Regions from separate parts of the Homo sapiens genome. Here regions 1, 3 and 4 are each linked to region 2. Evidence: fine-mapped expression QTL. A gene starts in region 2. Each other region holds a variant in brackets. All regions are shown on one strand. Distances are from middle to middle.

What was found. PIP is the estimated chance that this variant, and not a neighbour inherited with it, causes the effect.
Region 1: its variant is the best candidate, but not a certain one, in a credible set for the expression of NAPSA in whole blood (TOPMed, PIP 0.55).
Region 3: its variant is the best candidate, but not a certain one, in a credible set for the expression of NAPSA in whole blood (TOPMed, PIP 0.50).
Region 4: its variant is the best candidate, but not a certain one, in a credible set for the expression of NAPSA in whole blood (TOPMed, PIP 0.67).

What each region holds. Positions count from the first base shown.
Region 1 is chr19:50,387,423-50,395,267 of GRCh38, forward strand. All of the region lies in intron 1 of POLD1 (DNA polymerase delta 1, catalytic subunit), which reads left to right. Among named protein-coding and RNA genes, the nearest start is that of POLD1, 7.0 kb to the left of the region's middle. The variant C/T (reference allele first, on the strand shown) is at 4,375.
Region 2 is chr19:50,362,150-50,369,994 of GRCh38, forward strand. NAPSA (napsin A aspartic peptidase) reads right to left here and starts at 3,490. Exons shown (of 9, transcript NM_004851.3): 1 at 3,390-3,490; 2 at 23-164. The coding sequence starts at 3,472. All of the region lies in intron 3 of LOC105372437 (a long non-coding RNA gene), which reads left to right. RefSeq lists enhancers at 3,691-3,840, 6,634-6,693.
Region 3 is chr19:50,498,176-50,506,020 of GRCh38, forward strand. It overlaps JOSD2 (Josephin domain containing 2), which reads right to left. Exons shown (of 5, transcript NM_001270639.2): 5 at 7,823-7,845. Among named protein-coding and RNA genes, the nearest start is that of JOSD2, 9.1 kb to the right of the region's middle. RefSeq lists silencers at 2,146-2,195, 2,296-2,345 and an enhancer at 3,156-3,819. The variant G/A (reference allele first, on the strand shown) is at 3,704.
Region 4 is chr19:50,422,011-50,429,855 of GRCh38, forward strand. SPIB (Spi-B transcription factor) reads left to right here. Exons shown (of 6, transcript NM_003121.5): 3 at 463-535; 4 at 813-1,027; 5 at 1,595-1,745; 6 at 6,028-7,845. The coding sequence ends at 6,326. Among named protein-coding and RNA genes, the nearest start is that of MYBPC2, 7.0 kb to the right of the region's middle. RefSeq lists enhancers at 5,647-6,220, 6,221-6,793, 6,349-6,638. The variant G/A (reference allele first, on the strand shown) is at 3,668.

The DNA of each region.
Region 1 (7,845 bases), 25 kb after region 2:
AAGTGCTTGCTACCGAAGGGTCGTGAGAGGGGCAGAGGACAGTGTTTGCCAAGCTCTCATCCTGTGCCAGGGCCAATGAGAGGGGACACACAGGGGCCTTTCCTTCCTAATGCTGCTGTGCCTCCACTAACAAGAGCCCAGGTTTTGCCCCTGGTGACACCGTCCCTCCCACCGCACCCCCGCAGCCACAGCCAACTGACCAAGGGCAGCCAGTCAGCTCCTTCCTTCCTCCTCCAGCTTCAGCACTGACTCTGGGCTCCCACAAGCCCCTGCGCTTCCTCTGTCCCACCCGGGTCTCTCCTCGCAGATCATCACTCCCTGTCCCTCTCTGGCTACTTGCACAACCCGAAGCCAGAGCCGCTAACGACGCTTGCTTCTTCCTGTAAGTCACACATGTACGCGGTTGTCACCCAAAGAGCACAAACGCAGTCAAAGTCTTCCTCACACAAAACCCCCTGCACACGCTCACGGCTGCACCACTCACAAAAGGTGGAAGCAACCCTAATGTCCATCCACTGATGAAGGGATACGTCAGACGTGTTCTAGCCATACAGCGGAAAAGTACTCAGCAAAAAAGGGACACAGCACTGACGAAAGGCCGCCACACACATGAGCGATGAACACATTCAGAGAAAGCAGCCAGACACAAGAGGCTGCATATTCCAAGATCCCATTTATAGGAAATGCCCAGAATAGGCAGATCCATGGAGACAGAAAGTTAGATGAGTGGCTGCCAGGGGTGGGGGCAGATGGGCTGAATGCAGGGAGAGAGCTAAAGGATTTAGGCTTTTTGGGGTGATGAGAGAGTTCTAAAATTGACTGTGGTGATGGTTGCCTAACTCTGAACATACTAAATACCATTGAACTATATATACTTTAAATGGGTGAATTGTATAGTATGTGAATTATAGCTCAATAAAGCAGTTAGCAAATGAAGTCTTCTACCCTGTCCCCCAGGAAACCAGTTTCTTAGCTCTCCTTATAGAATGATGCATTAAAAGCAAATAGATTTATACATATGCCCTGCATTACAATAAAAAAGACGTCTACATACTCCCTGCATTACAATAAAAAAGACGTCTACATACTCCCTGCATTAAAAGCAAAAAGATTTCTACATACTCTTCTGCCCACCTTGTAAATTTGTTACTATTTTCATTTTATATATTTCCCCCTTAATATTTTGAAAAGTTTCAAACCTGCAGAGAAGGTACAAATTGAGTACAGTGAACAGCCATGGCCCTTTGCCTAGATTCACTGGCTGTTGGCATGACACCTCATTTGCTTTATGCTTTATCCAAGCACATGCATATACCTGTACCTTTTGTCCTTTTTTTGGCTGAACTATTTGAAAGTTGTGGTCATCATGATACTTCACCTCTGAAAACTCCAGCAGTTAACTCTTTTTTTTTTTTTTTTTTTTTTTTTGAGACGGAGTCTTGCTCTGTCACCCAGGCTGGAGTACAGTGGTGCGACCTTGGCTCACTGCAACCTCTGCCTCCCAGGTTCAAGCGATTCTCCTATTGCAGCTTCCTGAGTAGCTGGGACTATAGGCGCGCACCACCACATCTGGCTAATTTTTGTATTTTTAGTAAAGATGGGGTTTCACCATCTTTGCCAGGCTGCTCTTGAACTCCTGACCTTATGATCTACGTGCCTCTGCCTCCCAGAGTGCTGGGATTACAGGCATGAGCCACCGCACCTGGCCTCTTTTTTTTTTTTTGGTACAGTATTTTACTCTGTCATGCAGGTTGTAGTGCAGTGGGGTGGTCACAGCTCACTGCAGCCTCGACCTCCCCAGGCTCAGCTGATCCTCAGCCTCTCGAGTAGCTGGGACTAAAGGTGTGTGCCACCACACCCTGCTAATTTTTATATTGTTTATAGAGACAGGGTGTCACCATGTTGCCTAGGCTGATCTCAAACTCCTGGGTTCAAGCAATCCCCCTGCCTCGGCCTCCAAATGTCCTGGGATTACAGCCGTGAGCCACCGTACCTGGCCTCCAGCAGTCAGCTCTTAAGAACAGGGATGTCCGCCTGCAGAACTACAGTGTCATTGTCATCATCATGCAGTTTAACATGAGACAGTGACGTTATTGAATAGACGATTCTTATTTAGATCTGCCACGTGTCCCTGTAATATTCTTCAAGGCTATAAATAATTTCTTATTTTTTTTTTTTTTCCAAGACTGAGTCTTGCTCTATCGCCCAGGCTGGAGTGCAGTGGCACTATCTCGGCTCACTGCAACCTCTGCCTCCTGGGTTCAAGCCATTCTCTTGCCTCAGCCTCCCGAATAGCTGGAATTACAGGCATGCACCACCACGCCCGGCTAATTTTTTTGTATTTTTTGTAGAGACGGGGTTTCATTTTGGCCAGGCTGGTCTCGAACCCCTGACCTCAGGTGATCCGCCCGCCTTGGGCTCCCAAAGTGCTAGGATTACAGGCGTGAGCCACCATGTCCAGCCTGTTTTTTTTTTTGTTTTTTGTTTTGTTTTTTTTTTCTTTTTTGAAACAGAGCCTCATTGTCACCCAGGCTGGAGTGCAGTGGTGCGATCTTGGCTCACTGCAACCTCCACCTCCCAGGTTCAATCAATTCTCCTGCCTCAGCCTCCCGAGTAGCTAGGATTACAGGCGCCTGGCACCACGCCCAGCTAATTTTTATATTTTTAGTAGAGACAGGGTTTCACCATGTTGGCCAGGCTGGTCTCAAACTCTTGACCTCAGGTAATCCACCCACCTCAGCCTCTCATAGTGTTGGGATTACAGGTGTGAGCCACTGCGCCTGGCCAATAATTTCTTTTTTTCTTTTCTTTTCTTTTTTTTTTTTCAAGTTACATGAAGTAAATTTATTATTTACAGCTAGGCAACAAGGGAAAACCGAAGCATAGGATTCATTGTGAGCCAATCTCCCGAGACTCAGGAAGGTTGCCCCGGGAGGATGGAGTCTCATTTGTGTGTACCCCATTTGTACCTGGAAAGCAGACCATCTTGGGTTTTATATTCTGGAGGCAACATGACATGTTGGGCTAAAATGATGAAGGACATCCTGTTTCTAGGAGGGACTGGAACAGAGCCTGGGCTGTTTCAGCCAGTCCCTCCTTATCTCAGGATATTGCATTCCTAGCACATTCTACAGTTATTCTTGAGAACTATTTTTTTTTTTTTTTTAGTATTTATTGATCATTCTTGGGTGTTTCTTGGAGAGGGGGATTTGGCAGGGTCATAGGACAATAGTGGAGGGAAGGTCAGCAGATAAACAAGTGAACAAAAGTCTCTGGTTTTCCTAGGCAGAGGGCCCTGCGGCCTTCCGCAGTGTTTGTGTCCCTGGGTACTTGAGATTAGGGAGTGGTGATGACTCTTAAGGAGCATGCTGCCTTCAAGCATCTGTTTAACAAAGCACATCTTGCACCGCCCTTAATCCATTTAACCCTGAGTGGACACAGCACATGTTTCAGAGAGCACGGGGTTGGGGGTAAGGCCGTAGATTAACAGCATCCCAAGGCAGAATTTTTCTTAGTACAGAACAAAATGGAGTCTCCTATGTCTACTTCTTTCTACACAGACACAGCAACAATCTGATCTCTCTTTCCTTTCCCATTTCCCCCTTTTCTATTCGACAAAACCGCCATCGTCATCATGGCCCGTTCTCAATGAGCTGCTGGGTACACCTCCCAGACGGGGTGGCGGCCAGGCAGAGGCGCTCCTCACATCCCAGACGGGGCGTCGGGGCAGAGGCGCTCCCCACATCTCAGACGATGAGCAGCCGGGCAGAGACGCTCCTCACTTCCTAGACGGGATGGCGGCTGGGAAGAGGCGCTCCTCACTTCCCAGACTGGGCGGCCAGGCAGAGATGCTCCTCACTTCCCAGACGGGGTGGCGGCCGGGCAGAGGCTGCAATCTCGGCACTTTGGGAGGCCAAGGCAGGCGGCTGGGAGGTGGAGGTTGTAGCGAGCCGAGATCACGCCACTGCACTCCAGCCTGGGCACCATTGAGCACTGAGTGAGCGAGACTCCGTCTGCAATCCCGGCACCTCGGGAGGCCCAGGCGGGCAGATCACTCGCGGTCAGGAGCTGGAGACCAGCCCGGCCAACACGGCGAAACCCCGTCTCCACCAAAAAATACAAAAACCAGTCAGGCATGGCGGTGCGTGCCTGCAATCCCAGGCACTCAGCAGGCTGAGGCAGGAGAATCAGGCAGGGAGGTTGCCGTGAGCCGAGATGGCGGCAGCACAGTCCAGCCTCAGCTCGGCATCAGAGGGAGACTGAGAGGGGGGAGGGGGAGGGGGAGGGAGAGGGAGAGGTCTTTTTTTTTCCCACTCCCCCGCTCTTGTTGCCCGGGCTGGAGTGCAATGGCGCAATCTTGGCTCACTGCAACCT[C/T]CGCCTCCCAGGTTCAAGCGATTCTCCTGCCTCAGCCTCCCAAGTAGCTGGGATTATAGGCGCCCGCCACCATGACAAGCTAATTTTTGTATTTTTTTTAGTATAGACGGGGTTTTCACCACGTTGGCCAGGCTGGTCTTAATCTCCTGACCTCAGGTGATCGGCCTGCCTCAGCCTCCCAAAGTGCTAGGATTACAGGCGTGAGCCACTGCACCTGGCCCATCATTTTACTTTTTTAATCCAAGTTCTAACCTAGGATAACACACATTGTCATGGCAACTTTTTCATTTTTTAAGACATGTCTTGCTCTCTTGCCCAGACTGTATTGCAGTGGTGCAGTCATGGCTCACTGCAGCCTTCACCTCCCAGGTTCAAGTGATCCTCCCACCTCAGTCTCCCAAGTAGCTGGGACTGTAGGTATGCACCACCATGCTTAAGTAATTTTTAATTTTTTGTAGAGATTGACTAATTTTTAATTTTTTGTAGAAATGGAGTCTCACCATGTTGCCTAGGCTAGTTTCTAACTCCTGGCCTCAAGTGATCATCCCACCTCAGCCTCCCAAAGTGTTGGGATTACAGACGTGAGCCTCCTAGCCCAGGCAACTTACTTTTTCATGACATCGACAGTTTTAAAGATTACAGACCAGTGTTGTCACCCCTCACCTTGGATTCGTTTGTTTCTTTTTCTTGTTTTGTTTTGAGACAGAGTCTTGCTCTGTCACCCAGGCTGGAGTGCAGTGGCGTGATCGCAGCTCACTGCAACCTCTGCCTCCCAGGTTCAAGTGATTCTCCTGCCTCAGCCTCCCAAGTAGCTGGTATTACAGGCACCCACCACCACGCCTGGCTAATTTTTGTATTTTAGTAGAGATGGGGTTTCACCATGTTGGTCAGGCTGGTCTGGAACTCTTGACCTCAAGTGATCCACCCTCCTTGGCCTCCCAAAATGCTGGGATTACAGGCGTGAGCCACTGCACCCAGGCTGTTTGTTTCTTAATGACTAGAATCAGGGTAAACGTTTTCTTAGACATTGTTTTTCAACACAAAAGATAAAATTGTGAGTGCACCACTGTGCATCTTGCTTTATCTACTGAACAATGCCTCTTTGAGAACCTTCCCTATCAGTACACAAAGAGCTTCCTCATTCCTTTACACAGTTGCATAGTATTCCATTGAACGGACTTAACATATTTAAATAGCCCCCTGGGGGAGGACAGTTAGGTGGTTTCCAGTCCTTGGGGATTTCAAACGATGCTTCCGGAAATAACCTTATAAATGCAGTTTTTCTTATGTGATAATATATCTACAGTGTACGTCCCTAGATGTGGAATTGAGCCTCCAAACTTTTATGTTTATAATTGAGGTGGCATTTACATGGCGTGCCATGCCCAGGTCTCCAGTGTACAGTCAGCTGTATAGTGTGTTTTATCACCCCAGAAACCCCCTCATACCCTTCCCAGTCTCTCCTACCCTAGGAGCAGCCACTAGTCTGATTTCTAGCGCTGTAGATCACTTTAGTGTATTCTACAACTTTGTCTAAATGGTATTGTACAATTTTTATGGAGGTAAAATTAGCCATTTTAAAGCAAACAATGGCTGGGCGTGGTGGTTCATACCTGTAATCCCAGCACTTTGGGGAGGCCAAGGCAGGCAGATCACTTGAGCCCAGGGGTTTCAGACCAGCCTCAGCAACATGGCAAAACCCGTCTTTACCAAAAAACAATTGGCTAGGCATGGTGGCACGCATCTGTCTTCATAACTACTCAGGAGGCCAAGGTGGGAGGATCACCTGAGCCCGGGAGGTCAAGGCTGCAGTGAGCTGAGATCATGCCACTGCACTCTAGCCTGGGCAACAGAGTGAGATCCTGTCTCAATAAAGAGAGAAAGTAATAATAAAGCAAAGAATTCAGTTGGTACGTTCACAGTGTTGTACAACCATTACCTCTGTCTAGTTTCAAAACATTTCATCACCCCTACAGAAAACCCCATACTCCGTAAGCAGTCACTCCTCATTCCCCCAGTGTGCACTTTGCCTTCTGCACAGCCTGCTTTCAAGATTCATCCGTGTTGCATGTCTGTCAGGAGCTGGCCCCTCTCTAATGCTGAGTGTCTGTTATGAACCTCCCTGAACATTTCTAACATATACTCCATCAGTTCAGAATTTTTCCATGCTTATTTCAGGTCTAAGCTGTTGTACCAAGGAGCCCCCAAAACACAGTGGCCCAAGAAAGATACAAATTGATTTCTCCACATAACGCTTTGGAAGATAGGCAAGTGTGCAGGGTTGGCAGACAGCTTTGCTCTGGAAGGTTGTTGGGGAGCCCAGTGTTGTCCCTGTCCTTGTGGTTGGCTCTCCCACTACATCCATGTTCCAGCCACTGTGACGGGGAAGAGGGTGGGAGGATGTCCCAGTAGCTGCACACCTCATGATCACTCTCATTCCTGGAGGGAGAACTTAGTCACGTGGCCCTCCTGGCAGCGCACACTGGGAAATGTAGCCTTTGGCTGGGCAGCCTGTGGCCACTCCGGACACGCAGGGTTGGAGGGGTGTGTTCTATTGCAAAAAAGCAAAGCAAAGCCGGGCGCGGTGGCTCACACCCATAATCCCAGCACTTTGGGAGGCCGAGGCGGGCGGATCATCTGAGGTCAGGAGTTCCACACCAGCCTGGCCAACATGGTGAAACCCCATCTCTACTAAAAATACAAAAAAAAATTAGCGGGTATGATGGTGGACGCCTGTAATCCCAGCTACTCGGGAGGCTGAGGCAGGAGAATCGCTTGAAGCCAGGAGGCGAAGGTTGCAGTGAGCCGAGATCAGCCACTGCATTCCAGCCTGTGTGACCGAGTGAGACTCCGTCTAAAAAAAAAATAAGTAAAATAAAAAGGCAAAATGAGGACTGGATATGGGGCAACCGTTATGAGATCCAGGGATAGACAGCTGACCTGCTCACCTGCCTCTTCCCAGCCGCATCTAGGATCTGCCCTAGGTTCCAGTAATCCCCTCTGTCTCAGCCTGGACCCTGGGGGACAAGTACTTTGTTTTTGTTTGTTTGTTTTTTGAGACAGAATTTCACCCTTGTTGCCCAGGCTGGAGTGCAATGGCGCAGTCTTGGCTCACTGCAACCTCTACCTCCCAGGTTCAAGGGATTCTCCTGCCTCAGCCTCCCAAGTAGCTGGGGTTCCAGGTGTGCGCCACCATGCCCAGCTAATTTTTTTTTTTTTTTTTTTTAGTAGAGACAGGGTTTCACCATGTTGATAAGGCTGGTCTCAAACAACTGACCTCAAGTGATCCACCCGCCTCGGCCTCTCAAAGTGCTGGGATTATAGGTGCGAGCCACGGTGCCCAGCTGGGTACAGGTACTTTTTAAAAACTTCTTTCTCTGACAATTTCAAATTAACAGGAAGGTTGAAAGAATAAATAGTGTAGGCCGGGCGCGGTGGCTGGGTACAGGTACTTTTTAAAAACTTCTTTCT
Region 2 (7,845 bases):
GCTGTGTGGGGCTGTGACTCACATCCCTGTAGTTCGAGAGAGGTACGAAGATGGGCTTGTCCCCAGGGGATGGGGCCCCCAACTTGGGGAGCTCTGCTGGTTCTCTCCATCCCCTCAGTAGGTTCAGGATCCTGCGTCCAGGTTGGACTCGATGAAGAGGGATGCTGTAGGGAAAGAGGATATTGACAGGAAGCTGCCCTTCTTGGAGAACCTCTAAATAGACTTACCCAAATAGGATATGATGACAAATTCAACATCTCCAAGGCACTACAATAGTAGTCAGTACCAGAAACCCTGCAATAACAACCTCCAGAAAAGCCCATCAAAGATGCCATGATGACAAATATCCCCAAAGACTTTACAAGAGCAAACCATCCCAAACAGACCTTTCCATGTCCAAATCCCTTAAAATAAGCTATTCCCAAGGAATTGACATTCTTAAAGATTTCCCAAGACCCTAACAGAAAACCTAACCTTTGCAAAAGCCCTTGGGTGGTGGCCCCTGCATGCTTCAGTTCGTGAGGTTAGGGACTATTTTCCCCACCCTTGAGGAGAAAAATGTAAGCGTCAAATCTTAATTGTCTTGCTGTGTTGCCCGTGCTGATCTCAAACTCCTGGCCTCAGCCTCCTAAAGTGCTGGGATTACAGAGGAGAGCCACTATGCCCTGTCCGGGTTCCTTTAAACTGTATTTGCAAAAGCAGGAGGCAAACAGGATTTGGCCCTTAAGCTGAGTGTTTGCAACCCTTGACTTAGAGGGCCAATTACAATTCAGGTATCTTAGTTGCTAATTAAGTAGGTCTAGGATGGAGCCGAGAATTTGGATTTCTAACAAGTTCCCAGGTCATGACGATGCTGTTGATACAACATTTGGAGACTCATTTTCTTTGCATTGACTTAGAAAATGGCCATGAGACATTAGGTTCAAAAAGCAGGTTAACAAGCACCATGTGCGGTAATATCTTCGTTCCTGCCTTTAGTCACTCCTTGAAGCACTTGTCACATCACTCACACCTTTCCCGTCACCCCCCATGAGTCAGTCTTTGAGAGGCACGAGAATGTGAAGTGGGGAAAACTCTTCCTGGAAGTGTACACCCCTCCCCCTACCAAGAGTTCCAGGGAATGAAGACAAGAGAGGAGAAAAAGAGAGATGGGGGCGGGGAGGGGACATCAGAGGTAAGGTAGTGGGAAGACTTCTTGCATAGGGTCCCCAAGATTGGATTTCTTTTTCTTCTTTTAAACTTTTTATTTGAAACAGGGTCTCCCTCTGTCACCCAGGCTGGAGTGCAGTAGTGCAGTCAGGGCTCACTGCAGCCTTGATCTCCAGGGCTCAAGTGATTCTCCCACCTCAGCCTCTGGAGTAGCTGAGACTATGGGCACACCACCACACCTGGCTTTTTATTTTATTTTATTTTATTTATTAATTTTTTTTTTAGACAAGGTGTCACCCTGTTGCCCAGCCTGGAGTGCAGTAGCAGGATCATAGCCCACTGCCCCCTCGAACTACTGGGCTCAAGCAATCCTCCTTCCTCACCCTCCTGAACTAGCTGGGACCATGGGTGTGCACCACCACACTGAGCTAATTTTTGTATTTTTTGTAGAGGTGGAGTCTGGCCATGTTGCCCAGGCTGGTCTCAAAACTCTTGGCCTCAAACAAGCTTCCCACCTTGGACTTCCAAAGTGCTGGGTTACAGGTGTGAGCCATGTCTCTGGCCAAAAACATGACTTCTTCAGGCCAGTTTGATGGGCGTGATGTGGGGGAGTCTCAGTTTAAATGTCACATATCTGGGGCTCGAAGATGGGAGGAGTGTGTCACAGGTCTGGAAACCACAGTACCTAATCATCAGAGCTCATAGTAGGGTCTGCAGAGACCTCTCAAAAACATGTCCTGGCCAGGCGCAGTGGCTCACGCCTGTAATCCCAGCACTTTGGGAGGCTGAGGCAGGCAGATCACGAAGTCAGGAGTTCAAGACCAGCTTGGCCAACATGGTGAAACCTCATCTCTACTAAAGATACAAAAAAAATTAGCCGGGCATGGTGACTCACGCCTGTAATCCCAGCACTTTCAGAGGCAGGAGAATGGTGTCAGCCTGGGAGGTGGAGGTTGCAGTGAGCTGAGATCGCGCCATTGCACTCCAGCCTGGGCGACAGGGCAAGACTCCGTCTCAAAAAAAAAAAAAAAAAAAGGCCAGGCGCGGTGGCTTACGCCTGTAATCCCAGCACTTTGCGAGGCTGAGGTGGGTGGATCACGAGGTCAGGAGATCGAGACCATCCTGGCTAACACTGTGAAACCCCATCTCTACTAAAAATACAAAAAATTAGCCGGGCGTGGTGGCGGGTGCCTGTAGTCCCAGCTGCTTGGGAGGCTGAGGCAGGAGAATGATGTGAACCCGGGGGACAGAGCTTGCAGTGAGCCAAGATTGCGCCACTGCACTCCAGCCTGGGCAACAGAGTGAGACTCAGTCTCAAAAAAAAAAAAAAAAAAAAAGTCCTGAGAGGAGGGGGAGGGGTCCTCAATCTAGAGTCTCAGTGTTGTAAGATCTGGGACTTAAAAGGGCTCTGGGACCGGACGCGGGGGCTCACAGCTGTAACCACAGCACTTTTGGAGGCTGAGGCGGAAAGATCACTTGAGGTCAGGAGTTCAAGACAGCCTGGCAAACATGGCGAAACCCCATCTCTACTAAAAATACAAAAATTAGCCGGGCGTGGTGGCATGTGCCTGTAGTCCCAGCTACTTGGGAGGCTGAGGCAGGAGAATCACTTGAACCCGGGAGGCAGAGGTTGCAGTGAGCTGAGATCGCCCCACTGCACTCCAGCCTGGGTAACAGAGCAAGACTCTGTCTCAAATAATAATAATAATAATAAATAATAATAATAATAATAATAATAATAAAAGGGCTCTGGTCAGCCAGGCGCGGTGGCTCACGCCTGTAATCCCAGCACTTTGGGAGGCCGAGGTGAGCGGATCACGAGGTCAGGGGTTCCAGACCAGCCTGGCCAACATGGTGAAACCCCGTCTCTACTAAAAATACAAAAATTAGCTGAGCATGGTGGCGCGAGCCTGTAATCCCAGCTACTTGGGAAGCTGAGGCAGGAGAATCGCTTGAACCCAGGAGGCAGAGGTTTCAGTGAGCTGAGATCATGCCATTGCACTCCAGCCTGGGCAACAGAGTGAGACTCCATCTCAAAAAAAAGAAATCTGGTCTTAAGAGATGTCAGAGTGGAGCCCTTAGGGGTGACAGCCTGGTTTAGAGATCTGGAAAGCTGAGAAAGAAGCTCTAGGGATCCTGGGTGCCAAGTTTGGGGATCACTGAACTGGGAGTCCTAGACTTAAAGGGCAAGAGGCAGAAAATCCCTCCTAAGGTTGGGGTGGTAGATGGGGTCACCATACCGGATCAGTGTGGCCCCGGAAGGCTCCACATTCAGCAGAGGCAGCAGCAGCAGCAGGGGTTGCAGCAGCGGTGGTGGAGACATCGCTGGGGACCTGGGTGTGAACCCAGGTGTCCTGGGGCCTCATTTTCTTTCCCCTGTGACTCCACCCTGTTCATGCCCCACCTCCAGGTTTAGAAGGAGACCAGGACATGAAATCTGTCCGCAGGTGACGCAGTGGGACAAGGATGTTTTTTGAAGATTTGTGCAGAGTATTTTTGTAGGGTTGGCAGAAGTAGCATCCTGTGCTCCTGGTGCTCCTCACTCCCTACTTGGGTGGCAGTGGTGGTGGGGTCTCCTCCACCGTCACCACCTCCCACCCCCCCATCCTTCAGCTGCTGTCAGTTTTACTTTTAACTTTCACATAACTTTTCTGAGACTTATTAACCACAAGTGTTTCCTTGGCCAAGTGGGAGAGACCAGCAGGTATCTGTGAAGGGCCTGGGGGAAGGGAGAAAGGACATGATTAGACACCTGCCCTCACATATGAAGTGGGCCCGCATTTCAGGACCCAGTCTCTTACTGTTTTATTTGTAGGTGAAGTATGTTTCTTGTTGACAACAGATCATTGGGTATTGTTTTTTGTTTGTTTGTTTTTGTTTTTGTTTTTTGGTTTTTTTTTTTTTGAGACCGAGTTTCACTCTTGTTGCCCAGGCTGGGATTACAGGCATGCGCAACCACGCCCCACTAATTTTGTAGTTTTAGTAGAGACAGGGTTTCTCCATGTTGGTCAGGCTGGTCTAGAACTCCCGACCTCAGGTGATCCGCCCGCCTCAGCCTCCTAAAGTGCTGGGATTACAGGCGTGAGCCACTGCACCCAGCTGATTCTCAATTATTTCAATCTCTTTGTTAAATTTATGTGATGGAATCTGAATTCCTTCTGTGTGTTAGCTTGAATTTCTTTGAGTTTCCTCAAAACAGCTATTTTAAATTCTCTGTCGGAAAGGTCACATATCTCTGTTTCTTCAAGGATTGGTCCTTGGTGGCTTATTTGATTTGTTTGGTAAGGTCATTTATTCTGGATGGCCTTGATGCTTATAGATGTTCATTGGTGGCTGGGCATTGATGAGTTATTTATTTATTTATTTATTTATTTATTTATTTATTTATTTAGATGGAGTTTTGCTCTTGTTGCCCAAGCTGCAGTGCAATGGTGTGATCTCAGCTCACTGCAACCTCTGCCTCCCAGGTGCAAGTAATTCTGCCTCAGCCTCCCGAGTAGCTGGGACTACAGGCACCCGATACCACCCTGGCTAAATTTTTTTTTTTTTTTTGAGATGGAGTTTCACTCTTATTGCCTAGGCTGGAGTGTAATGGCGCCATCTTGGCTCACTGCAACCTCTGCCTCCTGAGTTCAAGCGATTGTCCTGTCTCAGCCTCCCAAGTAGCTGGGATTATAGGCGCATGCCAGCTAGTTTTTGTATTTTTAGTAAAGACAGGGTTTCATCATATTGGTCAGGCTGGTCTCGAACTCCTGACCTCAGGTGATCCACCTGCCTCGGCCTCCCAAAGTGCTGGGATTACAGGCATGAGCCACCGCACCCAGCCTACACCCAGCTAATTTTTGTATTTTTAGAAGAGACAGGGTTTCACCATGTTGTCTAGCCTGGTCTCAAACTCCTGACCTCAGGTGATCTTCCTGCTTCAGCCTCCCAAAATGCTGGGATTAGACATGAGCCACCATGCCTGGCCATGTTAGGTATTTATTGTAGTCTTTGCAGACAAGGCTTGTTTGTACCTGTCCTTTTTGGGGAGGCTTTCCAGGTATTCAAAAGTACTTGGGTGTTGTGATCTAAGCCATGTCTGCATTAGGGGGCTCCCCAAGCCCATTAATGCTGTGGTTCTTGCAAACTCATAGAGGTACTATCTTAGTGGTCTTAGATAAGATCCAGAAGATTTATCTGGATTACCAGGCAGAGACTCTTGCTCTCTTCCCTTGCTTTCTCTCAAACAGAGTCAGTCTCTCTCTCTCCCTCTCTCTCTCTCTCTCTCTCTCTCTCTCTCTGTCTCTGTCTCTCTCTCTCTGCTGAGCTACCTGGAGCTGGGAGTGGGGTGACACAAACACCCCATGCCTACTATCACTGGGATTGCGCTGGGTCCTGCCCATGGCCTCCTGTAACCACGACCTACCTGCCTACTGCTTATGTTTGCTCAAGGCCCTTGGGCTCTAAAACTAGCAGGTTCCAAAGGCAGCCATGCTTGCATCCTTCCCTTCAGGGCATCAAGTTACCTCAGGTCCCAGGTGGGTCCAGAGATACAGTCAGTGAGCCAGGGACTGGAGTCAAAACCCTTAGAAATCGGCTGGATGCGGTAACTCATGCCTGTAATCCCAGCACTTTAGGAGGCTGAGGCAGGCGGATCACTTGAGGTCAGGAGTTCGAGGCCAGTCTGGCCAACATGGTGAAACCCTGTCTCTACTAAAAATACAAAAATTAGCCAGGCGTGGTGGTCAGCGCCTGTAATCCCAGCTACTCGGAAGGCCGAGGCAGGAGAATCACTTGAACCTGGGAGGCGGAAGTTGCAGTGAGCCAAGATCGCGCTGCTACACTCCAGTCTGGGCGACAGAGCAAGACTCCCTCTCAAAAAAAAAAAAAAAAAAAAAAGAAACAAAAGAAAGGCTAGGTGCGGTGGGGGTGCGTTTGGGAGGCTGGGGGTGTCATCCCAGCCCTTTGGAAGGCTGAGGCAGGAGGATCGCTTGCGCCTGGGAGTTGGAGACCAGCCTGGGCAACAAAGGGAGACCCTGTCTGTACAAAAAAAATGTAAAAATTATCTGGGCGTAATGGCACACTCCTGTAGTCCCAGCTACTGGGGAAGGTGAGGCTGGAGGATAACTTGAGCCTAGGAGGCTGAAGCTGCAGTGAGCCGTCATCACGCCACTGCACTCCATCCCAGGTGACAGAGTGAGACACTGTCTCAACAGAAATAAATAAATACATAAATAATGGTAAAGATCCACTTTGTGCACTCCTTGCTCTGGGGGATTTTCCTGAAGCAGCCGAACGTGTCCCTGATAACTGTCACCACCCCCCTTTGTTTTCTCAGTCAGAGCACTCGATCTGGGCCCCTTCAACTCGCCCCGCACGCTTTCCGTCTGCAGCACCCCATCCAACTGCACCCAAGCGCCCTTAAGTAGTTTGAGAGGCCGTGCCTGCAAATTCCCAATTGGCCACAAGGTGGAGGTGTGGGCCTGTTTTCCCAGCCAAGATTCCCCAGCCGCCACCCGTTTCTAGAGCTGGACCCCTGGAACACCAGGCTCTCTCCAGCTTTCCTGCTTCCGCCCTAGCAGTTCCCACCGCCTGGAATGCCGACTTGCTCGCTCTCTGCACCCCACGGGAAAAGGAGCAGAACAGGCTTCCTCCCTGACTCCCCTGCCCAAGCGTACTGGGAGATCTCCTGCCGAACACGGCCCGGCCAATGGGACCTGGATCTCCCCATGTCTTGTCTCTCAGGGGGTTGTGACCGAGTGGGCCTCCACCATCAGAGGAGCACAGTTTCCAGAATCGCCCAACACAATCTTTCCCGAATCCCCTCAGGAAGTGATTAGGTAAAGGATTGCCAGATTTTTAAACCCGTCATTTTATTTACTAACCTTGTAAGAAAGGAATTATCGCCCACATTTTACCGGGTTGGGGAGGGGCTGCTGCGGTGCAGCAAGATTAAGAGGAGGCAGCCCAGGTGCACTTGGAGGGGAATTGAACCTGGTTCTTGAAGCTGCAGACACCAAGTAATCAGCCCAGATGCCTCGCATCGTCTTTGCCAGGATTACTTTTGCCCCTGTTCCATTGGTGGGAATCTGTCACGTGGTTGCTCCTGGCTGCAAGGACGACCCGGAAATGTAGTCCAGTTGTGTGTCCAAGAGTGGGGGACCCTTTGGGTGACTCTCAGGCACTGTGGGCCACATCAGACCCCACAAGGCCTCAAGTTCGGACCTGCGTTCCCTCTATGATCTTATATCGCACCTTCCCGAGGTCTCGCATTAGTGTTTTTTTTTTTTTTTTTTTTTTTTTTTTGAGGCAGAATCTCGCTCTGTTCAGGCTGGAGTGCAGTGGCTGTGATCTCGGCTCACTGCAACCTCCGAACCCCCAGGTTCAAGCGATTCTCCTGCCAATTTTTGTAATTTTAGTAGGGACGGAGTTTTGCCATGTTGGCCATGCTGGTCTCGAACTCCTGACCTCAGGTGATCTGCCCGCCTTGGCCTCCCAAAGTGTTGGGATTACAGGCATGAGCCACTGCACCTGGCCTACTCAAAATATTAAACATAGGCCGGGCATGGTGGCTTACACGTGTCATCCCAGCACGTTGGCAGGCTGAGGTGGGAGGATTGCTTGAGCCCAGGAGTTCCAGACCAGCCTGGGGAACATAGTGAGTCTGTCTCTACAAAAGAATTACCTGGGCTTGCTAGCGCATGCTTGTAGTCC
Region 3 (7,845 bases), 140 kb after region 2:
GTGGAGGAGAGGCAGAGACAGAAGATGGGGAGAGACAGAGATAGAAGAAGACAGAGAGAAAGAGACACAGAGATACAAAGCCAGGGAGAGACAGAGAGATGGGGAGAAAAGGGAGAGTAAGAAAGAGAAACAGGGGGTGCTGAGGGAGACTGAGAGAAAGTTGGGGGGAGGAGACAGAGACACAGAAAAGAGGTGGGAGGAAGAGACAGATGAGACAGATGGAGAGACAGAGAGAAACAGACGAGAAGGAGGAGAGAGAGATGGAGAGAACGATAGGGAGAATGAGAGACAGAGACAGTGAGGAGAGGGAGATGAGGCAGGAGAGGAGATAAAGAGAACTGGGGAGAGGGACACAGAGAAAGACAGATGGGGAGAGAGACAGAGACAGGGAGAAAGAGAAGGAGAGAGAGACGGAGAGAGAGAGGAGAGAGGGAGACAGCGGGAAAGAGGGGGAGAGAGAGAGACGGAGAGAGGGAGACGGAGAGAGAGAGACAGAGGGAGAGAGAAAGAGGGAGAGAGAGAGTGGGAGAGAGAGACAGAGGGAGAGAGGGAGAGGGAGAGAGAAAGAGGGAGAGAGAGAGAGAGGGAGAGAGAGACAGAGGGAGAGACGGAGAAAGAGAGGGAGAGAGAGACGGAGAGAGAGAGACAGGGAGAGAGAGACAGAGGGAGACAGGGAGAGAGAGACACAGGGAGAGAGAGAGAGAGGGAGAGAGAGAGACGGAGAGGGAGAGACGGAGAGAGAGACAGAGGGAGAGAGAGACAGAGAGAGGGAGAGAGAAGGAGAGAGAGAGAGAGAGGGAGACAGAGACAGAGAGAGACAGAGGGAGAGAGGGAGAAAGAGAGAGAGGGAGAGAGAGAGACGGAGAGAGACAGAGGGAGAGAGGGAGAGAGAGAGACGGAGAGAGAGAGACGGAGAGAGGGAGAGAGAGAGACGGAGAGAGAGACAGAGGGAGACGGAGAGAGAGAGACGGAGAGAGGGAGAGAGAGACGGAGAGAGAGACAGAGGGAGACGGAGAGAGAGACAGGGAGAGAGAGAGACGGAGAGAGAGAGACAGAGGGAGAGAGGGAGACAGAGGGAGAGACAGGGAGAGAGAGAGACAGAGGGAGAGAGAGAGACAGGAAGAGAGAGACAGAGGGAGAGAGGGAGACAGAGGGAGAGACAGGGAGAGAGAGAGACAGAGGGAGAGAGAGAGACAGAGGGAGAGAGAGACAGGGAGAGAGAGACAGAGAGAGAGAGGGAGACAGAGACGGAGAGAGAGACAGAGGGAGAGAGGGAGAAAGAGAGGGAGAGAGAGACGGAGAGAGAGAGACAGAGGGAGACAGAGAGAGAGACAGAGGGAGAGAGAGAGAGAGGGAGAGAGAGACAGAGGGAGAGACGGAGAAAGAGAGGGAGAGAGAGACGGAGAGAGAGAGACAGGGAGAGAGAGACAGGGAGAGAGAGACAGAGGGAGACAGGGAGAGAGAGACACAGGGAGAGAGAGACAGAGGGAGAGAGAGAGACGGAGAGAGAGAGACGGAGAGAGAGACAGAGGGAGAGAGAGACAGAGAGAGGGAGAGAGAAGGAGAGAGAGAGAGAGGGAGAGAGAGACGGAGAGAGACAGAGGGAGAGAGGGAGAGAGAGAGACGGAGAGAGAGAGACGGAGAGAGGGAGAGAGAGAGACGGAGAGAGAGAGACAGAGGGAGACGGAGAGAGAGACGGAGAGAGAGAGATGGAGAGAGAGAGACAGAGGGAGAGACAGGGAGAGAGAGAGACAGAGGGAGAGAGGGTGACAGAGGGAGAGGGAGACAGAGGGAGAGAGAGACAGAGAGAGAGAGAGGGAGACAGAGACGGAGAGAGAGACAGAGGGAGAGAGGGAGAAAGAGAGAGAGAGATGGAGAGAGAGAGACAGAGGGAGACGGAGAGAGAGACAGAGGGAGAGAGAGAGACGGAGAGAGAGACAGGGAGAGAGAGAGACAGAGGGAGAGAGGGAGACAGAGGGAGAGAGAGACAGGGAGAGAGGGAGACGGAGAGAGAGAGGGAGAGAGAGACGGAGGGAGACAGCGAGAGAAGACGCGCGGAGCCTTGCGGCAGGAGGTCGAGGAAAGAACAGCCCCTCTCACCTGGCGTCGGTGGCAGCTGAACCCTGGGCCCGACTGTGCGATTTAAGGGGTGCCCTGGGGGTGAGACCGCCCCCCCACCCAACTGCCTTATCTGGCCAGACCCGGCTCTGTGAGCTAAATCGGGCAGCAGCTGTCACCACCAGGGGGTGTGGGACAGCTGTCCCCCTCCCCCCGCACCTGCCCTGCGCCTGCCTCTTGACCACAGCCCCTCCCTCTCCCTTTCTGCAGCCTGGGGGTGTGGAGAGGCCACTGGCATCTGTGCGGGGCGCCCCAGCCCCCTCAGCTCTGGGACAGGCCTGGCCGGGTGCCCTGGGGCAAGCGGTAGCCCTCTGAGTCCTGAGGCGCTCCCCTGGGAAGAGCAGTCCCAGCGGGTGGGGGCACAGGCGCTCTGCACTGTGAGGGGCAGACAGTAAGTGCTTAGTTGATGCAATGACCTGGTCTGTCCTGCCCGCTCTCACCTGCCAGAATATGGGGGTTGGGGCAGGAGGGAGTGGGAGCAGGAGGAGGTCAGCTGGCCCCTCTCCCCCCACCCCCAGCGCCCCCAGCTCCTCCTCCCGGGGCTCCTCACTCCGGACCTTATTTGGCCATAGCCCAGGACGCACCTGGGGGCCACAGCCCCGCCTGCCACTCAGGCCCAAGAATAGCAACACTCAGGCCCCCGCCAGTCTGTCTGGGACCTGCGATGGGACAGGCGACAGGCACAGGGTGGCAGGGAGGGGCCCAGGGGCACTGAGAGAAGGGGAGAGACACAGACAGAGGGGAGAGACAGCGAGCTGAGGAGAGACTGAGAGAGACCGTGGGAGAGACAGAGAGACAGGGTCAAAGAGACAGAGAGGGGTGGAGAGAAATGCCCAGCAAGAGAGATAGAGAAGGGAGGCTGAGACAGGCGAAGCGAGAGAGGGAGACACAGAGACAGAGGGGGTTAGCCAGGGGCCCGGGGCCAGACACCCAGATGGGGCAGAGAGCGAGACCCACACCAGCAGAGGCGTGGGGAGCCCGGTGGGCGGGCAGGAGGTGCAGGGATCTGGATGGGATGGGGCCAGAGCCGTTCGGGAGTCTGCAACCCCCAGCAGTTTCCCCTCCGGTGCTGTCTGGCTTTTAACTTTACGACCTGCCCTTTGACCTTGGGAAAACTTGCAAACCAGAACCTGCCACACCCTGGTCCATGCGCAGCCAGGGCTTTCATGAGTGTGTCCTGCGGGGCATCAGCTCCACCTTGCCAGGGGTGCATGGGCAGCTTGTGGGCTGCCTGGATGAACTGCCTGCCTGGGCGCATGGGCCTGTGGCTCCAGGAGGGGACACACCCCAAGCCAGGGACCCCTTGCCTCCCTGTGCCTGAGTCCCCCACTTCTGCAGGTGCCTAACGGGGATCCCCAGGTTCATCCAGGCCCCTGGACACCTTCCACTCATTCCTGCCTCCTCACCTCCCAGGGCCCACCAGCCTCAGACCCTCCTCTCTGTCGCCCTCAGGGGCCTAGCTCAAGCCCTGCCTCGCCCCTCCCAGCCTCCTCCCGGGCCTCCTGGCTTCTGGTTCCCCCTCCATTCTGTGCCTGCAGCCCCAGAGGGGTCTCTGCACCCAGAGCTGACCTGTCCTTCCCTTCTC[G/A]CAGCTCCCAGGCTGCCCTTGGAGGTCCCGCCTGGTTGGGTTCCTGGCCGGGACCCACCCTCCTCCTTCATCACCTCCTCAAATAACTCTGGCGATAAACAGCCGTGGCGTTCCAGGTCTCATCCGGGATGACTTCCAATTCTGGAGTGCCCTCCCGTGCCCCGCCAGCCTCTGCAGAGCCCTCCTCAGCCTTCCGTGGCCAGCCTTGTCTCTGGGCCATTTTATGCGACTTGCTTGTCCCGGGGTCCCTTCTCTGTTCTCTCGTCCCTGCAGTGCTCTGTGGGAACCCCATAAAAGCCCCCACTGCTGGGACAGAAACTCTTGGTGTCCCCTTGGGTCTCCCCACAGGGTGGGAGCTGGGAGGGTGGGCCGACACTTCCCGTCAGCACAGGCGTCCCTCCTCCGCTGTGGGGACCCTCGTGATGACCCGGGGCCCACCGGGGGATCCAGGACACTCTCCCTGTCCCAGTCCCACTCGCAACCTCACTCTCCCTTGGCCAAGTAACACAACATATTCACAGGCTCCAGGGATTAGGACAAGGCATCTTTTAACTGTATTTATTTTAATTAATTTTTTTTTTTGAAATGGAGTTTCACTCTTGTTGCTGAGGCTGGAGTTCAATGGCGCGATCTCAGTTCACTGCAACCTCCGCCTCCTGGGTTCAAGCGATTCTCCTGTCTCAGCCTCCCAGGTAGCTGGGATTACAGGTACCTGCCACCATGCCTGGCTAATTTTTTTTTTTTTTGAGACGGTGTCTCACTCTGTCACCCAGACTGGAGTGCAGTTGGTGCGATCTCGGCTCACTGCAACCTCCGCCTTGCAGGTTCAAGCAATTCTCCTGCCTCAGTCTCCTGAGTAGCTGGGATTACAGGCATGTGCCACCACACCTGGCTAATTTTTGTAATTTTAGTAGAGATGGGGTTTTCACCATGTTGGCCAGGATGGTCTCAATCTCTTTACCTTGTGATCCACCCACCTCAGCCTCCCAAAGTGCTAGGATTATAAGCGTGAGCCACTGCACCTGGCCTAATTTTTTGTTTGTTTGTTTGAGATGGAGCCTCACTCTGTCACCCAGGCTGGAGTGCAGTGGCACGATCTCCACTCACTGCAAGCTCCGCCTTCTGGATTCACGCCATTCTGCGTCAGCCTCCCCAGTAGCTGAGACTACAGGCGCCTGCCACCATGCCTGGCTAATTTTTTTGTATTTTTAGTAGAGACGGGGTTTCACCGTGTTAGCCAGGATGGTCTCAGTCTTCTGACCTCATGATCCGCCCGCCTCGGCCTCCCAAAGTGCTGAGATTACAGGCGTGAGCCACCGTGCCTGGTCTATTATATTTATTTTTATTTATTTTTTTGAGACAGGGTCTCACTCTGTCACCCAGGGTGGAGTGCAGTGATTCGATCATGGGTCACTACAGCCTCGACCTCCTGAGCTCAAGTGATCCTCCTGCTTTTGCCTCCCAAAGTGCTAGGGTTACAGGTGTGAGCCACCATGCCTGGGCTATTATATTTTGAGACAAAGTCTCTCTTACTCACGATCATGGCTAACTGCAGCCTTAACCTCCTGGGCTCAAGCAGTCCTTCTGCCTCAGCTTCCCAAGTAGCTGTGATTACAGGCGCAGGCCACCACGTCCCACTTATTTATTTATTTATGAGACAGAGTCTTCCTCTGTTGCCAAAGCTGGAGTGCAGTGGTGCAATCTCGGCTCACCAAAACCTCCACCTCCTGGGTTCAAGTGATTCTCCTGCTTCAGCCTCCCGAGCAGCTGGAATTACAGGCGTGCACCACCACACCTGGCTAATTTTTGTAATTTTAGTAGAGATGGGGTTTTCACCATGTTGGCCAGGCTGGTCTCGATCCCTTTACCTCGTGATCCACCCACCTCGGCCTCCCAAAGTACTGGGATTATAGGCGTGAGCCACGGCACCTGGCCTATTATTATTATTATTATTATTTTTGAGACGGAGTTTCACTCTGTCACCTAGGCTGGAGTGCAGTGGCACGATCTTGGTTCACTGCAAGCTCTGCCTTCTGGATTCACGCCATTCTCCTGCCTCAGCCTCCCCAGTAGCTGAAACTACAGGTGCCCACCACCACGCCCAGCGAATTTTTTTGTATTTTTAGTAGAGACGGGGTTTCACCATGTTAGCCAGGATGGTCTCAATCTCCTGACCTCGCGATCTGCCCGCCTTGGCCTCCCAAAGTGCTGGGATTACAGGCGTGAGCCACCGTGCCTGGTCTATTATATTTATTTTTATTTATTTTTTTGAGACAGGGTCTCACTCTGTCACCCAGGGTGGAGTGCAGTGATTCGATCATGGCTTACTACAGCCTCGACCTCCTGGCCTCAAGTGATCCTCCTGCCTCCACCCCCCAAGTAGCTGGGATCACAGGTGTGCACCACCATGCTTAGCTTATTTTAAAATTTTTTGTAGAGACGGGGTCTCACTATGTTGCCCAGGCTGGTTTCAAACTCCTGAGCTCAAGTGATACTCCTGCTTTTGCCTCCCAAAGTGCTAGGGTTACAGGTGTAAGCCACCATGCCTGGGCTATTATATTTTTGAGACAAGATCTCTCTTACTCACGATCATGGCTAACTGCAGCCTTAACCTCCTGGGCTCAAGCAATCCTCCTGCCTCAGCTTCCCAAGTAGCTGCGATTATAGGTGCTGGCCACCATGTCCCGCTTATTTATTTATGAGACAGAGTCTTCCTCTGTTGCCGAGGCTGAAGTGCAGTGGTGCGATCTTGGCTCACCAAAACCTCCATCTCCTGGGTTCAAGCGATTCTCCTGCCTCAGCCTCCTGAGTAGCTGGGATTACAGGCACCCGCCACTACAACCAGCTAATTTTTGTATTTTTAGTGGAGATGGGGTTTCACCATGTTGGCCAGGCTGGTCTTGAACTCTTTTTTTTTTTTTTTTTGAGACAGAGTCTCGCTCTGTTGCCCAGGCTGGAGTGCAGTGGCACAATGTTGGCTCACTGCAAGCTCTGCCTCCCGGATTCATGCCATTCTCCTGCCTCAGCCTCCCAAGTAGCTGGGACTACAGGTGCCCGCCACCATGCCTGGCTAATTTTTTTGTATTTTTAGTAGAGACGGGGTTTCACCGTGTTAGCCAGGATGGTCTCGATCTCCTGACCTCGTGATCTGCCTGCCTCAGCCTCCCAAAGTGTTGGGATTACAGCCATGAGCCACCGCGCCTGGCCAGTCTTGAACTCTTGACCTCGGGTGATCTACCCGCCTCGGCCTTCCAGAGTGCTGAGATTACAGGCGTGAGCCACCAGCCTCACATGCCACTTATTTTAATTTTTTTTTTTTTTAGAGACAGGGTCTTGCTATGTTGCCCAGGCTGGTCTCATACTTGTGGACCTCAGCCTCCCAAAGCACTGTGATTACAGGCATGAGGCACCACATCTGGCCAGGGTGTGGACATCTTTGGGGCCACTGTTCTGCCCGCCTGCCAATCAACGGAATAGAATCGAGAGTCAAGAAGTAAACTCAGGCATGGTGGCTCACACCTATAATCCCAGCACTTTGGGAAGCAGAGGCAGGCAGATTGCTTGAGGTCAGGAGTTCAAGACCAGCCTGGGCAACAAAGCGAGATCCCATCTCTACAAAAAAATTTAAAGAAAGTAGTCAGGTATGGTGGCATGCACCCGTGGTCCCAGCTACTTGGGAGGCTGAGGTGGGAGGGTCGCTTGAGCCCAGGAGTTCAAGGCTACAGTGAGCTGTGATTGACCCACTGCACTCCAGCCTGGGTGACAGAGTGAGACCCCTGTCTCAATCAATCAATCAAATAAAGAAGTAAACACCTGCTTTCTCCTTAGCAATGACCCCCGTGGAACCCAGGAGATCAAACTCATTTGTTTGCCACTGGTCTCTCTCCAGCACCGGAGGAGCGTGAGCCCCAGGGGGCACGGACTTGTGTTTTTTTCTGCTGTGTCACTGATGAGGAAACTGAGGCCCAGCAGTGAGAAACTGGCATGAGGTGGCAGAGAACCAGGAGGCCTCCTGGGCTCTCGGCCCCACACACCAGGGTGTCTGGCCTGTAAGGTAAGTGGGAGTCACTGAGTGGAAGGGGCCCCAGAAGGGTGGGGCCGTCAGACACAGGCCAGGCAGGCAGCAAATCAGCAGATTTATT
Region 4 (7,845 bases), 60 kb after region 2:
AAGTGTTGGGATGACAGGCGTGAGCCACCACGCCTGGCCTGGAGGTGTATTTAAAAAGCATTGACCCCTGCCTCTGTTAAGTGAAACACTTCCATTTCCCCTTGCCCTTCACCTCCGGAGCCCCCAGGCAGGCAAGGCTGGGGGAGTTCTTCCACCCCTTCTCCAGGCGCCCTGATTCGCTGACTGTGTGCCAGTGAGGGGCCAGGGTTCTTGGGAGCCCACCGTCTTAGCAGGAGCTGGCTGCTGTGTGCCCCTATTGGGTTGTGTCTCTACTCTCTGTATCTCTGTCTCTTTGTCCCTGTCTCTGATGCCTAGTCTCTGTGTTTCTTTGTTGCTCTAATCTCTCCAGCATCCCCTCTTCTCTCCCATGTCTGTGTTGGAGTCTCCCCAAGGGTCCAGGGTGGGGGTTGGGAGTCCCCAAGGCCTGGGATGACCCCTCTTCCCTCCTGCACCCCGTATCAGTACCCAGATGGCGTCTTCTATGACCTGGACAGCTGCAAGCATTCCAGCTACCCTGATTCAGAGGGGGCTCCTGGTGAGTGACCCCAGCCCTGTGCCCTTCCTGCCTTGGGGCCCATTTCACAGATAGGGGAGCTGAGGCCCAGGGGAGGTCATTTCCTAGCACAACAGGATAAAGGTGGCCCGGGCCTATAGCCCTCCTCCCCTTTCCTCTCCTACCCATCCGCTCCTCCATGCAAATCCTGGGGTCAGAGATTTGCACAGCCTACAATGGCCTCTCTGTGCTGGGGGCTTCGACTGCGAGGAGGCCTCCGTGAGACATCCCAGCTTCTGACTCAGTGCCCTTCCCCCAGACTCCCTGTGGGACTGGACTGTGGCCCCACCTGTCCCAGCCACCCCCTATGAAGCCTTCGACCCGGCAGCAGCCGCTTTTAGCCACCCCCAGGCTGCCCAGCTCTGCTACGAACCCCCCACCTACAGCCCTGCAGGGAACCTCGAACTGGCCCCCAGCCTGGAGGCCCCGGGGCCTGGCCTCCCTGCATACCCCACGGAGAACTTCGCTAGCCAGGTGAGTGGTAAGGGGACAGTTAAAATCAAGCCCAAACCAGGTGTGGTGGTGCACGCCTGTAATCCCAGCTGCTTGAGAGGCTGAGGTGGGAGGAGGATTGCTTGAGCCCAGAAGGTCGAGGCAATCCACTGCACTCCAGTCTGGGCAACAGAGCAAGACCCTGTCTCAAAAAAAAAAAAAAAAAAGAAAAAGAAAAGAAAACTCAAGCTCAGTCATTTGGTTGAGGTTTGCTGGGTGCCGGGCACTGCATTGAGACTGCACATAGTAAGCCCTGCAGCGGCCTCCCAGGTTACGTTCCGTTGTTGCCCCTCTGAACAAGTGAGTCAAGAGAGGTAGTGACAGGAAGCCAGGGACAGGGCAGACTCGCATTACCTGTGTTGGGCCGGCTTTGAGGAGGTACCTCAGGTGTCCCCTGGCCACAGCGTGGTGATCTGAACAAAGGCCAAAATCTAGGCTGTCAACAAAGAGGGAGACCAGAGCCAGGAGGGCCACCGCCTTGGCCTGAGAGGAGGAAGTGGAGGGAGACAAGGGGTCCCTGGACATGCAGGTGACCCTGACCTTCCGCAGACCCTGGTTCCCCCGGCATATGCCCCGTACCCCAGCCCTGTGCTATCAGAGGAGGAAGACTTACCGTTGGACAGCCCTGCCCTGGAGGTCTCGGACAGCGAGTCGGATGAGGCCCTCGTGGCTGGCCCCGAGGGGAAGGGATCCGAGGCAGGTATGCGGGAGTGGCTGGGGTGGGGGAGATGCCAGCTGGAGATGGTGGGGGGGCTGAGAGCACCATGGCTTCCTGGGCCTCTACATATACTCCAGCACTCTGGGCAGCTCCCAGATCCGCACCACCTGCTGGCTGTGTGACCTTGGGTAAGTGCCTCTACCTCTCTGTGCCCAGGTTTCCTGTCTGTGCGATGGGGATGGAGGTGATAGTGTCTACCCTCCTGAGGTCGTTGGGGGGACTAAATGGGATAGTAAGTGTAAATGGGACAGCAGTGCCAGGCACAGAGTGAGCACTTCAATAAGTCAACCTCTTCACCATCATTCCCGACACCACAGCAACAGAAATGATAATGCTATCAACCCCCAACGGTTCAACCCTTGCCCCCTGCCCGTGTGCCCAACATCCTTTATGCTCAACCCCAAGAAAGCTGAGATCGTTCCTTCCTTTCTGTGTCTGGGCCTCGGTTTCTCGTCTGTAAAGTGGGCATCACTGTCATCCTCCCCATCTCACGGGGTTATGATGGAGATTCAATGAGCTCATAACTGTAAAGTGCCTTGTGAAGCACCTGGCACTACATGCTCCACGGTGCATTGTAAAAATCAACACACAGGCTGGGTGTGGTGGCTCACGCCTGTAATCCCAGCACTTTGGGAGGCTGAGGCGGTCAGATCAACTGAGGTCAGGAGTTCGAGACCAGCCTGGCCAACATGGCAAAACCCCGTCTCTACTAAAAACACAAAAATTAGGCTGGGCATGGTGGCTCATGCCTTTAATCCCAGCACTTTGAGAGGCTGAGGAGGATGGATCACGAGGTCAAGAGATCGAGACCATCCTGGCCAACATGGTGAAACCTCACATTTACTAAAAATACAAAAATTAGCTAGGCGTGGTGGTGTGCACCTGTAGTCCCAGCTACTCGGGAGGCTGAGGCAGAAGAATCGCTTGAACCCAGGAGGCAGAGGTTGCAGTAAGCCGAGATCTTGCCACTGCAGTCCAGCCTGGCGACAGAGTAAGACTCTGTCTTAAAAAAAAAGAAAAAAGAAAGAAAAAAAAATTAATGGGGCATGGTGGTACATGCCTGTAATCCCAGCTACTCAGGAGGCTGAGGCAGGAGAGTTGCTGGAACCCAGGAGGCAAAGGTTGCAGTGAGCTGAGATTGCACCACTGGACTCCAGCCTGGGTGACAGAGCAAGACTCCGTCTCAAAAACAAACAAACAAAACCACAGCCTCATTTAAAAAATTTTAATTAATTAATTAATTTATTTTTTGAGACAGAGTCTCGCTCTGTTACCCAGGCTGGAGTGCAGTGGCACGATCTCGGCCCACTGCAACCTCCACCTTCTGGGTTCAAGCAATCCTCCTGCCTCAGCCTCCGCAGTAGCTGGGATCACAGGCACCCACACCATACCCAGCTATTTTTTGTATTTTTAGTAGAGATGGGGTTTCACCATCTGGCCAGGCTGGTCTCAAACTCCTGACCTCAGGTGATCCGCCCGTCTCGGCCTCACAAAGTGCTGGGATTACAGGCGTGAGCCACTGTGCCCAGCCACACAGCCTCATTTGTGGCTGAGAGACTTCAGCTCAGAGAGGTTAATTAAGTCACCTATTTTAACTTAGGACATTTAAGATGGAGAGGATCTCTCCAATGACTAGGAAAGACACAAGATGGAAATAAAGATTTTATTTATTTTTATTCATTTATTTGAGACGGTCTCCATCTGTCACCCAGGCTGAAGCGCAGTGGCGCAATCTCGGCTCACTACTGCCTCAAACTCCTGGGCTCAATCGATCCTCCTGCCTCAGCCTCCTGAGTAGCTAGGACCACAGGCGTACACCACCACACCTGACTAATTTTTAAAATTTTTGTAGAGGTGAGGTCTCGCTATGTTGCCCAGGCTGAACTCCCAACTCCTGAGCCTAT[G/A]TGCTCCTCCCACCTCAGCCTCCCAAAGTGCTGAAGTTACAGGCATGAGCCACCACACCCAGCCAGAAATAAATTATTTTATGGCTTATAGGTCCTGGGGCATACATGGCACGCCTGGAGGCCACACACACCAGGTCAGGGAGCGCAGGCAGGGAGGGAGAGAGAGAGGGACCAGTGGACTGACGCCTTTATTGGGTCCAAGGCGTCGGCCAAACAGGTTTCCTGAGGGGGTTTTAATTGGTGGGTTCAGGCCAGGCACAGTGGCTCATGCCTATAATCCCAGCACTTTGGGAGGCTGAGGCTGGTAGATCACCTAACGTCAGGAGTTCAAGACCAGCCTAGCCAACATGGTGAAACCCCGTCTCTACTAAAAATACAAAAATTAGCTGGGCCTGGTGGTGCACGCCTGTAATCCCAGCTACTTGGGAGGCTGAGGCAGGAGAATCGCTTGAATCCAGGAGGCAGAGTTTGCAGTGAGCTGAGATCATGCCACTGCACTCCAGCCTGGGCAACAGAGCAAGACTCCAGCTCAAAATAAATAAATAAATAAATACTTGGTGGGTTGAAAGCAAGCAGGATCAAGTTCCAGGAGGTCACGCTGTGCCTGAGAGGGGGTCACTGAGGCATCTGCACAGTCCATGCAGGGCCGTCAAGTAGGCTGTCCATGGCTCTCCCACAGGGAGGTGGTCACCAGGAGTCAGTTGCATAAGAGAGATATCTGGGTCAGCCACACTGAGGAACTCGGGGAGGGAGATGTAGAACTGCCAAGGAGGACAGCCCTGCTTCCAGCATGAGAATGTCCAACTTTTATTTAGTTTTATTTTATTTTATTTTGAGAGGGAGTTTCGCTCTTGTTGCCCAGGCTGAGTGCAATGATATGATTTCAGCTCACTGCAACCTCTGCCTCCTGGGCTAAAGTGATTCTCCTGCCTCAGCCTCCCAAGTAGCTGGGATTACAGGCATGAGCCAAGCACACCCAGCTAATTTTTGTATTTTTAGTAGAAACCGGGTTTCATCATGTTGGCCAGGCTTGTCTCGAACTCCTGACCTCAAGTGATCTGCCCACCTTGGCCTCCCAAAGTGCTGGGATCACAGGCATGGCCCACCGCGCCCAGCCTCCAACTTATACTTTCGATGAATGCCGAGGCAGCCTAAAATTATAAGAATTCAATCCGGGTGCAGTGGCTCACACCTGTAATCCCAGCATTTTGGGAGGCCGAGGTGGGAGGATCACCTGAGGCCAGGAGTTCAAGACCAGCCTGGGCAACATAGTAAGACACCATCTCTACAAAAAATAAAACAATTAGCTAGGCATGATGGTGCATACTTGTAGTCCCAGCTACTGGGGAGGCTGGGGCAGGAGGATTGCTTAGGCCCAGGAGGTCGAGGCTGCAGTGAGCTGTGATTGCTCCTCTGCACTCCATCCTGGGTGACAGAACGAGACCCTGCCTTGAAAAAAAAGAAATTAAGATGTCACTACGTCACCACCCCAAGGTCACACTGCTGTAAAATGGCAGAGATGGGATTCTTGTAGCCAGTGCCCTGCTTTGAAACTCCCAGTTATTGGCCGGGCGCAGTGGCTCATGCCTGTAATCCCAGCACTTTGGGAGGTCGAGGTGGGCGGATCACCTGAGGCCAGGAGTTCGAGACCAGCCTGGCCAACATGGCGAAACCCCGTCTCTACTAAAAATATAAAAATAAGCCGGGCATGGTGGCAGACGTCTGTAGTCCCAGGTACTCGGGAGGCTGAGGCAGCAGAATTGCTCGAACCCAGGAGGCAGAGGCTGCAGTAAGCCGAGATTGCGCCATTGCACTCCAGCCTGGGCCGCAGAGCAAGACCCCGTCTCAAAAACAAACTAAACCCTAGGAGCCCAGGAGTCAGGTGCCCTGGCCTCTCCCGGGACCCTGTCCCGCTTTGGGCTGAGAGGCTGGGAGACCAGGAGCTGGAGAGATAGCCAGGCCAATGCAACTGCCTCCAGATCTGTTCGCCTCTCCGTTATAATCCTTTAAGCGGCGCTGTCAACCCATTTCACAGATTCTTTCATCCACTAGCTCAACAAATATGGAATATTACGTGCTGGCCGCAGGGCGGAAGGCAGGACAGATGTAAATCTCGAAAATTAAAGCACAGAACGCGGAGGGGGCCTGGGGCTGACAGCTTCGGGCAGGGGGAGTGGCTTGCCCCCCCCCCCCCCCGTGGTGAGGGGCGCAGAGCCAGGTGTATGTAACAGCCACTTCCCTCACCCCACTTTTCAGATCCAGGAGATGGAGGCCGGGGTGGAAGTCTCGGAGGAGGGTGGATGGGGAAGGCGGGGCCTTAGGGACCCCTCACCTAACGCGTGCCCCCGACCCCACCGCAGGGACTCGCAAGAAGCTGCGCCTGTACCAGTTCCTGCTGGGGCTACTGACGCGCGGGGACATGCGTGAGTGCGTGTGGTGGGTGGAGCCAGGCGCCGGCGTCTTCCAGTTCTCCTCCAAGCACAAGGAACTCCTGGCGCGCCGCTGGGGCCAGCAGAAGGGGAACCGCAAGCGCATGACCTACCAGAAGCTGGCGCGCGCCCTCCGAAACTACGCCAAGACCGGCGAGATCCGCAAGGTCAAGCGCAAGCTCACCTACCAGTTCGACAGCGCGCTGCTGCCTGCAGTCCGCCGGGCCTGAGCACACCCGAGGCTCCCACCTGCGGAGCCGCTGGGGGACCTCACGTCCCAGCCAGGATCCCCCTGGAAGAAAAAGGGCGTCCCCACACTCTAGGTGATAGGACTTACGCATCCCCACCTTTTGGGGTAAGGGGAGTGCTGCCCTGCCATAATCCCCAAGCCCAGCCCGGGCCTGTCTGGGATTCCCCACTTGTGCCTGGGGTCCTCTGGGATTTCTTTGTCATGTACAGACTCCCTGGGATCCTCATGTTTTGGGTGACAGGACCTATGGACCACTATACTCGGGGAGGCAGGGTAGCAGTTCTTCCAGAATCCCAAGAGCTTCTCTGGGATTTTCTTGTGATATCTGATTCCCCAGTGAGGCCTGGGACGTTTTTAAGATCGCTGTGTGTCTGTAAACCCTGAATCTCATCTGGGGTGGGGGCCCTGCTGGCAACCCTGAGCCCTGTCCAAGGTTCCCTCTTGTCAGATCTGAGATTTCCTAGTTATGTCTGGGGCCCTCTGGGAGCTGTTATCATCTCAGATCTCTTCGCCCATCTATGGCTGTGTTGTCACATCTGTCCCCTCATTTTTGAGATCCCCCAATTCTCTGGAACTATTCTGCTGCCCCTTTTTATGTGTCTGGAGTTCCCCAATCACATCTAGGGCTCCTCCAAGATCCTTTTGTCATGTCTGAAATCACTCTTGAGAGGTCTGGGGTGGAGGATGGGGAGTCAGTGAAATGTGTCATGTCTGGGCCCTGTCAGGGACACCCTTGTTATATCTGGGATCCTCCAATCACATCTGAGACCTCCTAGGCTCTCCATCTGATATGCCCTTTCAGGGACCCCACAAAGACTGAGTTCTCATGGGGATCCTACCCTTCCTAGTGCCACTCCCTATGGCCATGCTGAAGACCACTCTGGCCACGCGACTGATTTTGGGTGATCATGGCAGCTCCCCACCCATGTCATTTCTAACCAGAAGTCTCAAGGTCGTCACCCCCCTGCCCCCCAACCGAGGCCCCGGTCGCTGGTGGTGGTCTCTTTAGTGCACTGTAGCACTTGGTGGTGGAGGTGTGAGGGATCCACATTAACAGCAGGCCATCAGCTGGGCAATGGCTCACACCTGTAATCCCAGCACTTTGGGAGGCGAGGCAGGGGGAATGGCTTGAACCCAGGCATTCAAGACCAGCCTGGGCAACATAATGAGACCTCGTCTCTACAAAACATAACAAAAACAATTAGCCGAGCGTGGGGGTGAACACCTGTGGTCCCAGCTGCTCAGGAGGCTGAGGTGGGAGGATCTCTTGAGCCCAGGAAGTAGGAGGCTGTAGTGAGCTGTAATCGTGCCACTGCACTCCAGCCTGGGCGACAGAGTGAGACACCGTCTTAAAAACAAAAACAAGGCCGGGCACGGTGGCTCATGCCTGTTGTCCCAGCACTTTGGGAGGCCGAGGCAGGCGGATCACGAGGTCGAGAGATCGAGACCATCCTGGCCAACATGGTGAAACCCTGTCTCTACTAAAAATACAGAAATTA